Linked DNA regions of Homo sapiens. The protein of the gene in region 1 purifies or fractionates together with the protein of each later gene. This does not show direct contact. Each region holds a gene or a part of one and is shown in the gene's direction. Other genes may lie near its edges.

Region 1 (5,169 bases):
CTGTGCTCCAGCCTGGGTGACAGAGTGAGACTTCATCTCAAAACAAAAAACAAAAAATTTTGTAGAGACGGGGGTCTCACTATGTTGCCCAGGCTGGACTTGAACTCATGGCCACAATCCTCTAGCCTCAGCCTTCCAAAGTGTTGGAATTACAGGCGTGAACCACTGCACCCAGCCCTCTTGATTATTTTTAAGCAAAGCCCAGACATCATATAATTTCTCCTATAAATTTTTCAGTGTATATCTTTAAAACAATGGTTCTCAAATGTCTTGATCCCGGGAACCCAAAATGCTTTTGTTTTATGTGAGTTGTATTTATTGATATTTATCATATTAGAAGTTAAAGCTGAGATTTTAAATTTATTGTTTTAAAAATGCTAATAAGCTCATTACGTGTTAACATAAATAACATGTTTTGGCTGGGCGTGGTGGCTCACACCTGTAATCCCAGCTACTCGGGAGCCTGAGGGAAGAATTGCTTGAACCCAGGAGGTGGAGGTTGCAGTGAGCCAAGATCGTGCCACTGCACTCCAGCCTGGGCGACAGAGTGAGACTCTGTCTCGATAACAAAACAAAACAAAACAAAAAACCATGTTTAATGAAAAATATATCTATTTTCCAGATGAATTTAGTGACAAGAATAACATTGGTTTACATTTTTGCGAATCTCTCTAATGACCTGGCTTAATAGAAACAGCTGGATTCTTACATCTACTTCTGCATTCATTCCATTGTAGTATTTTATTTTTTATATTTAAGTATATGAGGAAGTTCTAATTTCATGCAAATAAGTGGTTGGAAAGAGAGGAATATTTTGGCTTTTTTTTTGTGAGACAGTCTCACTCTGTCACCCAGGCTGGAGTGCAGTGGTGCGATCTCGGCTCACGGCAACCTCCGCCTCCCGGATTCAAGCAATTCTCGTGCCTCGGCCTCCCAAGTAGCTGGGATTACAGGTGTGCGCCACCAAGCCCAGCTAATTTTTGTATTTTTTGTAGAGCCAGGGTTTCACCATTTTGCCCAGGCTGGTCTCAAATGGTTGGCCTCAAGTGATCCGCCTGCCTTGGCCTTCCAAATTGCTGGGATTACAGGCAAGAGCCACCACGCCCAGCCCACCCCTTCCCTTTTTTTGAGACAGTTTCATCCCTGTTGCCTAGGCTGGAGTGTGGTGGCACAATCACAGCTCACTGCAGCCTCTACTTTCCAGGCTCAGGTGATCCTCCCATCTCAGCCTCAAGTAGCTGGGACTACAGGCATGCACCACCAAGCCCAGCTAATTTTTTATATTTTTTAGTAGAGACAGGGTTTTGCCATGTTTCCCAGCTGGTCTCAAACTCCTGAGCTTAAGTGATCCACCTGTCTGCCTTGGCCTCCCAAAGTGCTGGGATTACAGGCATGAGCCAAGGCGCCTGGCCTGTGGATATTTTTTTGATACTACACCAAAACGGTAAGTTGTAGTTTCTCAAAGGTTGGTTTTGATGTAGAAACTGAAACCATATGAATGAACCTTCTGTATTTATGTTTGAAGTTCATTGGTTTGTCTTGTACTTCAGATGTATCTTTTACACATGCATATTTTGTAGCATCCTAATTGGTCATTTGGAAAATATTGGTTTGCTGAGTTACGTAGATTTTCAAATGTTAACACACTTCATTATAATAAAAAAATTGCATTTGTTAATATGACTACTGATGTCATTAGAAAAGCCTTTAAATATATCAGGAAGCTATCAAGCCCATAGTGGTGCATAGAAGTTTCCTAAAATTCTGATTTTTGCTTGAAGCTCACAATTTTCATCATTTTCAACAAATACTTAAAATTATTTTCCTCAAAGACTTACTTTTTTCGTTTGCTTTCATTTCTTTTTGTTCATTTCTTTGTCTGCCAAATATCTACAACATCGTCAACTTAATTCTAAGTCTGAATTAACATCATGGGTGTTAACATGTTGATGAGTTAACATAGTTGGTGTCAGCTGGCTATTTGAGTAAAAAAGATACTCCATGTTAAAAGGGACTAGTTCAGAATCATGCAAGTGCTTTTGTTCAAGACAGTCATCTTCACTATGCAGTAGAAGTGCTTATGAAGTGTTCCATTTTATTTTACTTTATTTTTTATATAGAGACTGGGTCTTACTGTGTTGCTCTGGCTGGTCTTGAACTCCTGGGCTCAATCCAGCCTCTCACCTTGGCCTCCCAAAGTGCTGGGATTATAGGTGTGAGTCATCGTGCCTGGTTGAGGACTTTCATTTTTTTAAAAGTCACAGGATATGAAAGAGATGTATACTCAAGGGTTAAGGTTTAATAAAACTATTTATTTTCACTGCTTCATTAAGGACATTTTTAAGTAAAACTGGCTTTTCTCCCCTTCACTTGAATGGAGAATATGACTGCTAGTAATGTTTGGTTCTGCTACCCTGAGTTCTGCTAAGGTGTCAGCAGTTTTATTCATGTTTCCACCATCAGTGCAAATGTAAACACAGTGAAAGAAGCAAATATATGTTGTTAGTATTACTATTAAAAATAGCTTTGACTCTCAGGCGGTCCATGAACCACACTCTGAGAACCTCTGCTCTAAAAGATTAGGACACTAAACCTAACCACAGTACCTCCTTAGTATTAAATATCCAGATTTACATTTCCCTGATTATCACATAAGTTTTTTAAAGGTTTGTTGGTTTTAATCAGTATACAGATAAGGTCCATGCTTTGCAATTGATTGATAGTGTCTCATAAGTCCTTTTTTGAATTTATTGGTTGCCTTCCAACCTTTTTTTTCCCCTTGTAATTTGTTTGTTGAACAACCTGGACTGTTTGTCCAGGGCTTGAGACTGAATTTTGCTGCTTGCATCCCAAATGCTGTGCATTGCTGTTTTTTGTTTGTTTGTTTGTTTTTTGTTTTTTGTAAATAGATCTTGAGGCTTGAGATTTAGCGTTTGAGTTTTTTGGCAGTAATACTTTATAGGTGGTATTCTATACTTCCAGTATCTGGTTGCCTTTCTTTTTATGATTTTAGCAGCTATTACTAAAGACCTTAATTAAATGGCGATTTCCAACTGATACCATTCTATTTTTTCTCAGTCCTTCTTCAGTTTTTAGCCAGACTACTTCTAAAACTTTGTTTCCTCAACTGTTTGGTTACCTAGTGATGTAGTTCTTATAGTAAGGGCAGGAATAAATGCTTGATTCTCTTTTTTTATTTACCAGTTTTCAAAATAGTGAGCTGGTTGTCTAATGATCCAGATCAGTGGTCCAAAGTCGACCAATGATTTTTTTGTTTTGGTGGAATATCATTATAAACCCATTGGTTTTATTTTGTATATTTTGGATATTAAGTATGTTAAGGAAGCCATCACCATCTATTTGCCTGGCCATCTGAATAATGCATTTATTTCACTTCTTATGTTGGGGAAACCTATTATCATTTACCTGTTCTTTCCATTACTTCAGCCAACATGTATTTATGATTTCAAGGTTGATTGCCTGGGACAGTCATTCCATTGACAAGCTGCCTTATTTAGATTGTCTTTTTCATTATTCATTTTTTTAGTATAGAGTTGAATTCTAGAAAGTTAAATGATAGCATGATGAACCTCCACTCTATGCTTTATTGTGTCTTATGAGGAAAATTAAATGCTCTACTTAAGAATCTAATGTATCCACTCCATTTGGGGACCTTCTGTTTTTATTTTTATTTGTTAAAAAATAGAGATGGGGTCTCGCCATGTTGCCCAGGCTCCTGAGCTCAAGAGATCCACCCAGTCCACTTCCCAAAGTGCTGGGATTACAGGGGTGAGCCACTTTGCTTAGCCCATTTGGGGACTTTCTAATGCACGTCAAATAGTTGGTAGACTTCTCCTCTCCCCACCAATAGAGAGAATGCTAGGGTATAAAAATTAGAGCCTAGTTATCCGTCTTTGCAAATATTATTCTCCACCTTTGCCATTATTCAAGGCGGTGTTTATAATAAAAAATAAGTACAAAGTAATAATTTTTTTCTCTTAACAGTGATGGTGGCCTGCGTTTTGGAGAAATGGAACGAGATTGTCAGATTGCCCATGGAGCAGCCCAGTTTTTAAGGGAAAGATTGTTTGAGGCATCAGATCCATATCAGGTTCATGTTTGCAATCTTTGTGGAATAATGGCGATTGCCAACACCAGGACCCATACATATGAATGCAGGGGCTGCCGCAATAAAACCCAGGTGTGTATAGACTTTACTGGCAGTTGATATTTGTTTAGAGGAAACTGTGTTGGTCTGATTATCCAGGCAGAATTAGTGTGGCAGAACAGATTGGCATTTTCACAATTTTGATAGCATGCTTCTGTGAGATTCCGAGTTCTAAATAAGGAAAAGATAATTTGATTTTTCTAAAAACCAGTTTAGGTTTTAGTGTGGTAATTTCTCTAAGCTATTCATCTTTTGGAAATAATAAGACTTTGTACAAGGGATTTTAAACAATGAGTTTTTGAAAACCTTTTAGTTGAGGTGGGTGAATATAAATTATGTCTGGCAGAATGGGTAAAATACCAAAGCCTACTAGGAGAAAGAACCACCATAAGCTGAGGTAGCAGAATGTGTGTTCTCAGCTCCACTCATTTATTCATTATCTACAGTACCAGATCTTTGTCTTTTTCTGGGGTAGAGAAGTGGGGTCACTTCAATACAATTCTGCTAATTACCATTTGTTTTTTCTTTTCAGATTTCTTTGGTGCGAATGCCTTACGCATGCAAACTATTGTTTCAGGAACTTATGTCTATGAGTATTGCACCGCGAATGATGAGTGTTTAGCTATTTTACAGGAGTCAACAAGATAATTAAATATCTTGGTGTCTTGTTTCTATTGTGTGGCTTTTTAAAAATGACAAATATGTACTGTGTTGTGATAAAAAGTATTTTATTTGTTTAATGATATGCATGCTTTTCTTCTGTAAATATATAATAAATTTTTGTAGATAGTCTTGATGTGTGATCTTTATTTTGTATTTCTCTGTGTAAAACCAGTGAATATAACTAAAGTGTTAGTGGATTGGATTAAAAGAAACTTATTAGGCAAGAACAGGTAATGTAGTTATCCATGACTACTTTTAACCATGCAGACTAATAATATTCTGGAGGTTTATAGCTCGGCACCTTCACCTGTTTAAAAAAAAAAAAAGATAAAAATTAG
Region 2 (5,169 bases), on another chromosome or scaffold:
CATCCATCACCATGCCCAACTAATTTTTGTATTTTCAGTAGAGACAGGGTTTCACCATGTTGGCCAGGCTGCTCTTGAACTCCTGACCTTAAGTGATCTACCTGCCTTGGCCTCCCAAAGTGCTGGGCTTTACAGGTGTGAACCACCGTGCCTGGCCCAGTTATAGATTTAAAACATGCATATTCATTGGATGTCTACTTAAGAGAAGTACTGTGCCAGGCACTGGGAATACTGCGACAGATGACCTGGCCCTAAGGGGTGTTTAGTTGAGTAGGGGAGGCAGGTGAGTTAATAGGCGTTTATTACATGGCAGGGATACCATGTACAATAGGTGTAAACCCAGGGGACTGTGGATATGCATAGGGGAGCTTATCTGTTCTAATCTGAGTGAGTTGGTGGTCAGGAAACATGAGATTTATCCAGCCTTTGGGGACATGTAGAACTACTCCAGGCCAAGAAAGCTACAGGTACAGAGGCAAGATGGAGGAAGGTGTATTTAGAGATTGCAAGCAGTTTTACATACTTCTGTTTCACTCACAGAACTGTTTCTCTCCTCCCTGCTCAGGACAAGGAGAGCATCCAGCGAGTCCTGCAGGCTGTGGATAAAGCCAATGGATACTGTTTCAGAGCCCAAGAGCAGCGAAGCTTGGAAGCCATGATGTCTGCCGCAATGGGAGCCGACTTCCATTTCTCTTCGTATCCTTGCCAGCTTCCTGGCCATAGCAGAGAGGGTGAGACATGGGACTCAAGAATGGCCACAGGAGGTGCAGTCATCAACCTTGTGGATGACCAATTTCTTTTTTTTTTTTTTTTTTTGAGATGGAGTCTTGCTCTGTCGCCCAGGCTGGAGTGCAGTGGCACGATCTCAGCTCACTGCAAGCTCTGCCTCCCGGGTTCACGCCACTCTCCTGCCCCAGCCTCCTGAGTAGCTGGGACTACAGCCACCCACCACCACGCCCAGCTAATTTTTTGTATTTTTAGTAGAGACGGGGTTTCACTGTGTTGGCCAGGATGGTCTTGATCTCCTGACCTTGTGATCCACCCAATTTCTTTTTTCTTTTTTTTTTTTGAAAGGGAGTTTCGCTCTTGTTGCCCAGGCTGGATCGCACAATGGCGCAATCTTGGCTCTGTGTAACCTCTGCCTCCCATATTCAAGCAATTCTCCTGCCTCAGCCTCCCAAGTAGCTGGTATTAGTGTGCGCCACTGTGCCCAGTTAGTTTTTATATTTTTAGTAGAGACGGGGTTTCACCATGTTGGCCAGGCTGGTCTGGAACTCTTGACCTCAGGTGATCCACCTGCCTCAGCCTCCCAAAGTGCTGGGATTACAGGCATGAGCCACTGCGCCCGGCCGTGGATGACTGATTTCATATTGATCAGTTGGGCTTCCTGATGACTGTCTCTCATGTGCAAAGGTGGTCCCTTGGCTTCAGAGTTGGTTGTACTGAGGACAAGAGAGGATATTGATCAATAGGAGTAACAAATACAGAGGCCCAGAAATGAGAGGGCATTAGTCATTCGGGAGAGATGCAGGAGTCCAGTTCCTGGTGTGTTGCATGTGAAGAGGAAAGGGCGTTGCAGGGGTACAGGCAGGGCTGCCGAGGGAGGGGCCTGAGTGCCCTACTAAGGAATGTGGACTTCAGTTCATGGGTGGGCAGTGGGAGCAAGTATTCAAGCAGTACTGTTGAACAGGGTGTGACACAATCAGATGTACATTTTAGAAAAGCCCCTGCAATTGTGGAAAATGCATTTAAGGGACGTGATTGGGGGCAAAAGAGTTTTACAGTCTTGCTAGGTGAGAAGGGTTGAAAGATTTGTAGTGAGAATAGAAAGAAAGGTGTAGAATGGAAAAATACTAAGGAGATAGACTGTAAGAGTCAGTGACTGAATGGGATAGATGGAGCTGGAGTAGAACTTAGCTTCCCAGATCTCTGGCTTAGACGGTGGGTGGTTGTACTAATCACTGAGGCAGGAAAAGGAGGAGGGAGCAGGTTTGTCACATGGATGAAAGGGACAAGAGCTGGCAGATGTGCTGTGTTCAGGGGTCCATGGGACATCCAGAGCTGTCCAAGAGGCAGCCAGACTTTTGGAGCTTGGTTAGTGACTAATGAGGCTGGAGCCAAGGTCATGGGTAGGTGTCCATCAGGTCACAGAGGCCATGCGTGAAGCAGGACAGAAAAGTCCAGGCCCTCTAGGCTGATGCTCTCACAGATTCAGCATCTATGCAGCATGCTGGAGACAAGGGGGACTCAGGAGTCTTAGGGTATAGAGGAAAATAATTCCAGCCAACACTTACTGATGTTTCTCGAGCCATATGTGGGAAACAAAGCTCATGGGGTCGGGGTTGGAGGAATGACTTATAAATGATGGCAGTAGAGTGTGCAGTCCCTGATGAAGGTACTAAGGAGCTGCGTCACACCTGCAGTTAATGTAGGCCAATTGGACTGCATGTGCTCAGCAAAAGAGGGGAGGAGCAATTTTTTTTTTAAATTTAAGATGGACTTTCTTTTGCTGTTGTTGCCCAGGCTGGAATGCAATCTCCAACTCCAGGGTTCAAGTGATTCTCCTCCCTCAGCCTCCTAAGTAGCTGGGATTACAGGCATGCTCCACCACACCTGGCCCTTTTTTTTTTTTTTTTTTGAGACGGACCGTCAATCTTGTTGCCCCAGTTGGAGTGCAATGGTGCAATCTCAGCTCACTGCAACCTCCATCTCCCACGTTCAAGCAATTCTCCTGCCTCAGCCTCCCGAGTAAGTGGGATAATAGGCGCCCGCCACCACGCTCAGCTAATTTTTTGTATTTTTAGTAGAGACAGCGTTTTACCATGTTGGCCAGGCTGGTTTCGAACTCCTGAACTCAGGTGATCCACCTGCCTTGGCCTCCCAAAGTGCTGGGATTATAGGCGTGAGCCACCATGCCCGGCCTGCAACTTTTATATTTATTTCTTAGAGGCAGGGTCTTGCTCCTTTGCCCAGGCTGGAGTGCAGTGATGCAATCATAGCTCACTGCGACCTTGAACTCCTGGGCTCGTTACCCTCCCACCTCAGCCTCCCAAAGTGCTGGGATCACAGGCATGAGCCATCGTCCCCAGCTGGGAAGGGCAGTTTATGTTTGTTTATTTTGTGAGGCAGAGTCTCACTCTGTTGCCCAGGCTGGAGTGCAGTGGCGTGATCTCAGCTCACTGCAGCCTTGACCTCCCTGGGCTCAAGTGATCCTCCCACTTCAGCCTCCTGAATAGCTAGGACTATGGGCGTGTGCCACTGTGGCCAGCTAATTTTTGTAGAGATGGGGTTTCACCATACAGCCTAGGCTGGGAGAAGCAATTTAAATAATGTAGTATTTTGTACACCGTACAGATGGTTCCCAACTTATGATGGCTCAACTTTATGATGGTGTGAAAGCTATATGCATTCAGTAGAAATCATACTTTGGGTACCTATCAATCATTCTTTCACTTTCAGTACAGTATTCAATAAATTACATGAGATATTCAATACTTTATTGTAAAATAGGCTTTGTGTTAGATAATTTTGCCCAAATGCAGCTAACGTAAGTGTTCTAAGAATATTTAAGGTAGGCGAAACTAAGCTATGATGTGTGGTAGGTTATGTGTATTAAATGCATTTTCGACTTAAGATATTTTTGATTTAGGATGGGTTTATCAGGATGTAACCCCATCATAAGTCAAGGAGCATCTGTACGTTACTTTATGTATTCGTATATATAAAGGATTCTATTCACAAAACCATGTATGCTGCATTTAACAAATAATTTGAGGAATTTTAAAGAGTATTTTTAACCATATACATTTGTGCTGATTTTAGATTCTGCCCTGACCCTAACCCCCTTAAGATTCAGCAGCTCTCTGTAAGAGAGTAGGGACTGATACAAATAAGGGAGTGGTCAGCTTTGCTGAAGGGTAGGTGGGTAAGGAAAGCTTTATGGAGGCATGACACGTGAGTTGTGTCATTTCAAGGTGAGGGTTAGCCAGTCTAATGAAGAAGAAAAGGGAATTCAAGTTAAGAGAACATGCAAAGGCATAGGGGTTCAAAGTTGAGACAGGTTTCAAGGGTTGCAAATAAGATGGCATGGGCCAAGTGTAATGGCTTCATGCCTGTAATTCCAACACTTTGGGAGTTAAAGGTGGGAGGATTGCTCAAGGCCAGGAGTTTGAGACCAGACTGGGTAACATAGTGAGACCCCATCTCTCTCTCTTTTTTTTTTTTAAAGTATAAAAATTTATTTTTGGCCAGGCGTGGTGGCTTACGCCTGTAATCCCAGCACTTTGGGAGGCCAAGGCGGGCGGATCACGAGGTCAGGAGATCGAGACCATTTCTGTCAACATGGTGAAACCCTGTCTCTACTAAAAATAGAAAAATTAGCTGGGTGTGCTGGCATGTACCTGTAGTCCCAGCTACTCTGGAGGCTGAGGCAGGAGAATTGCTTGAACCAGGGAGTTGGAGGTTGCGGTGAGCCGAGATCGCGCCACTGCACTCCAGCTTGGTGACAGAGTGAGACTCTGTCTCAAAAAAAAGAAAAAGAAAGGTCTGTAACTCGAACATCATTTGGTGGGCTAAGTGCTTTACTTGCAGGGTCATTTAATCCTCATTTCAACCCCTTTTATAATTGAGGCGACAGGCCCAAGGTCCCTCTCCCGGGATGTTTTGGAAGAACAGTTCAAACCTTGGTTTTGGTGGGTGTAGAATCTGTTTCTTACTTTGGAGCCATCTGGTAGTACAACAGCCATGGTGTCCTAACATAGCCAACCTAGCCATGGCTAACCTCCATGTCCTCGTCAGACCCCAGACCCAGACATCATCAGGTTTTGAACTCCCTTAGTCTGGCTCCAGAGCATGTGCCATAACGCAAAATTGCAAGGTTAGTACTGTCCAGTCCTTTGATCCGCAGCAGTGTGTGGAAGAGGCAGATAGAGGAGCATTTGAGTCTGGGTGTTTTTGGAGGCTTCTCATACCTGATTGGTCCCTATAATTATGAGGAAGAGAGGGATGGACATGGTTGGAGTGTAGGCATCAGCGGAAGTCAGATCCTGCCCAGACCAGCTCCCCATCCTCTGCCTATGCTATCAGCCTTGACGCACCCTTCCTCAGCACACTGGGCATCCAGGAGAAGTACCTGGCACCCTCGAACCAGTCAGTGGAGCAGGAAGCCAT

What was found.
Region 2: the proteins of POLR2B (region 1) and GPN2 purify together in Homo sapiens (affinity purification with mass spectrometry; 4 studies listed by BioGRID and IntAct, with this or other methods). This does not show direct contact.

What each region holds. Positions count from the first base shown.
Region 1 is NC_000004.12:57,026,199-57,031,367, forward strand, and holds the end of POLR2B (DNA-directed RNA polymerase II subunit RPB2), read left to right. Parts: intron 1-4,005; coding exon 4,006-4,201; intron 4,202-4,574; exon of another isoform or gene 4,575-4,700; coding exon 4,701-4,790; 3' UTR 4,791-4,960; downstream 4,961-5,169. Other genes in the region: IGFBP7 (insulin-like growth factor-binding protein 7 isoform 1 precursor), read right to left, coding at 5,119-5,138. UniProt on the Homo sapiens protein: Catalytic core component of RNA polymerase II (Pol II), a DNA-dependent RNA polymerase which synthesizes mRNA precursors and many functional non-coding RNAs using the four ribonucleoside triphosphates as substrates.
Region 2 is NC_000001.11:26,879,687-26,884,855, reverse strand, and holds part of GPN2 (GPN-loop GTPase 2), read left to right. Parts: intron 1-565; coding exon 566-696; intron 697-5,106; coding exon 5,107-5,169. UniProt on the Homo sapiens protein: Small GTPase required for proper localization of RNA polymerase II and III (RNAPII and RNAPIII). May act at an RNAP assembly step prior to nuclear import.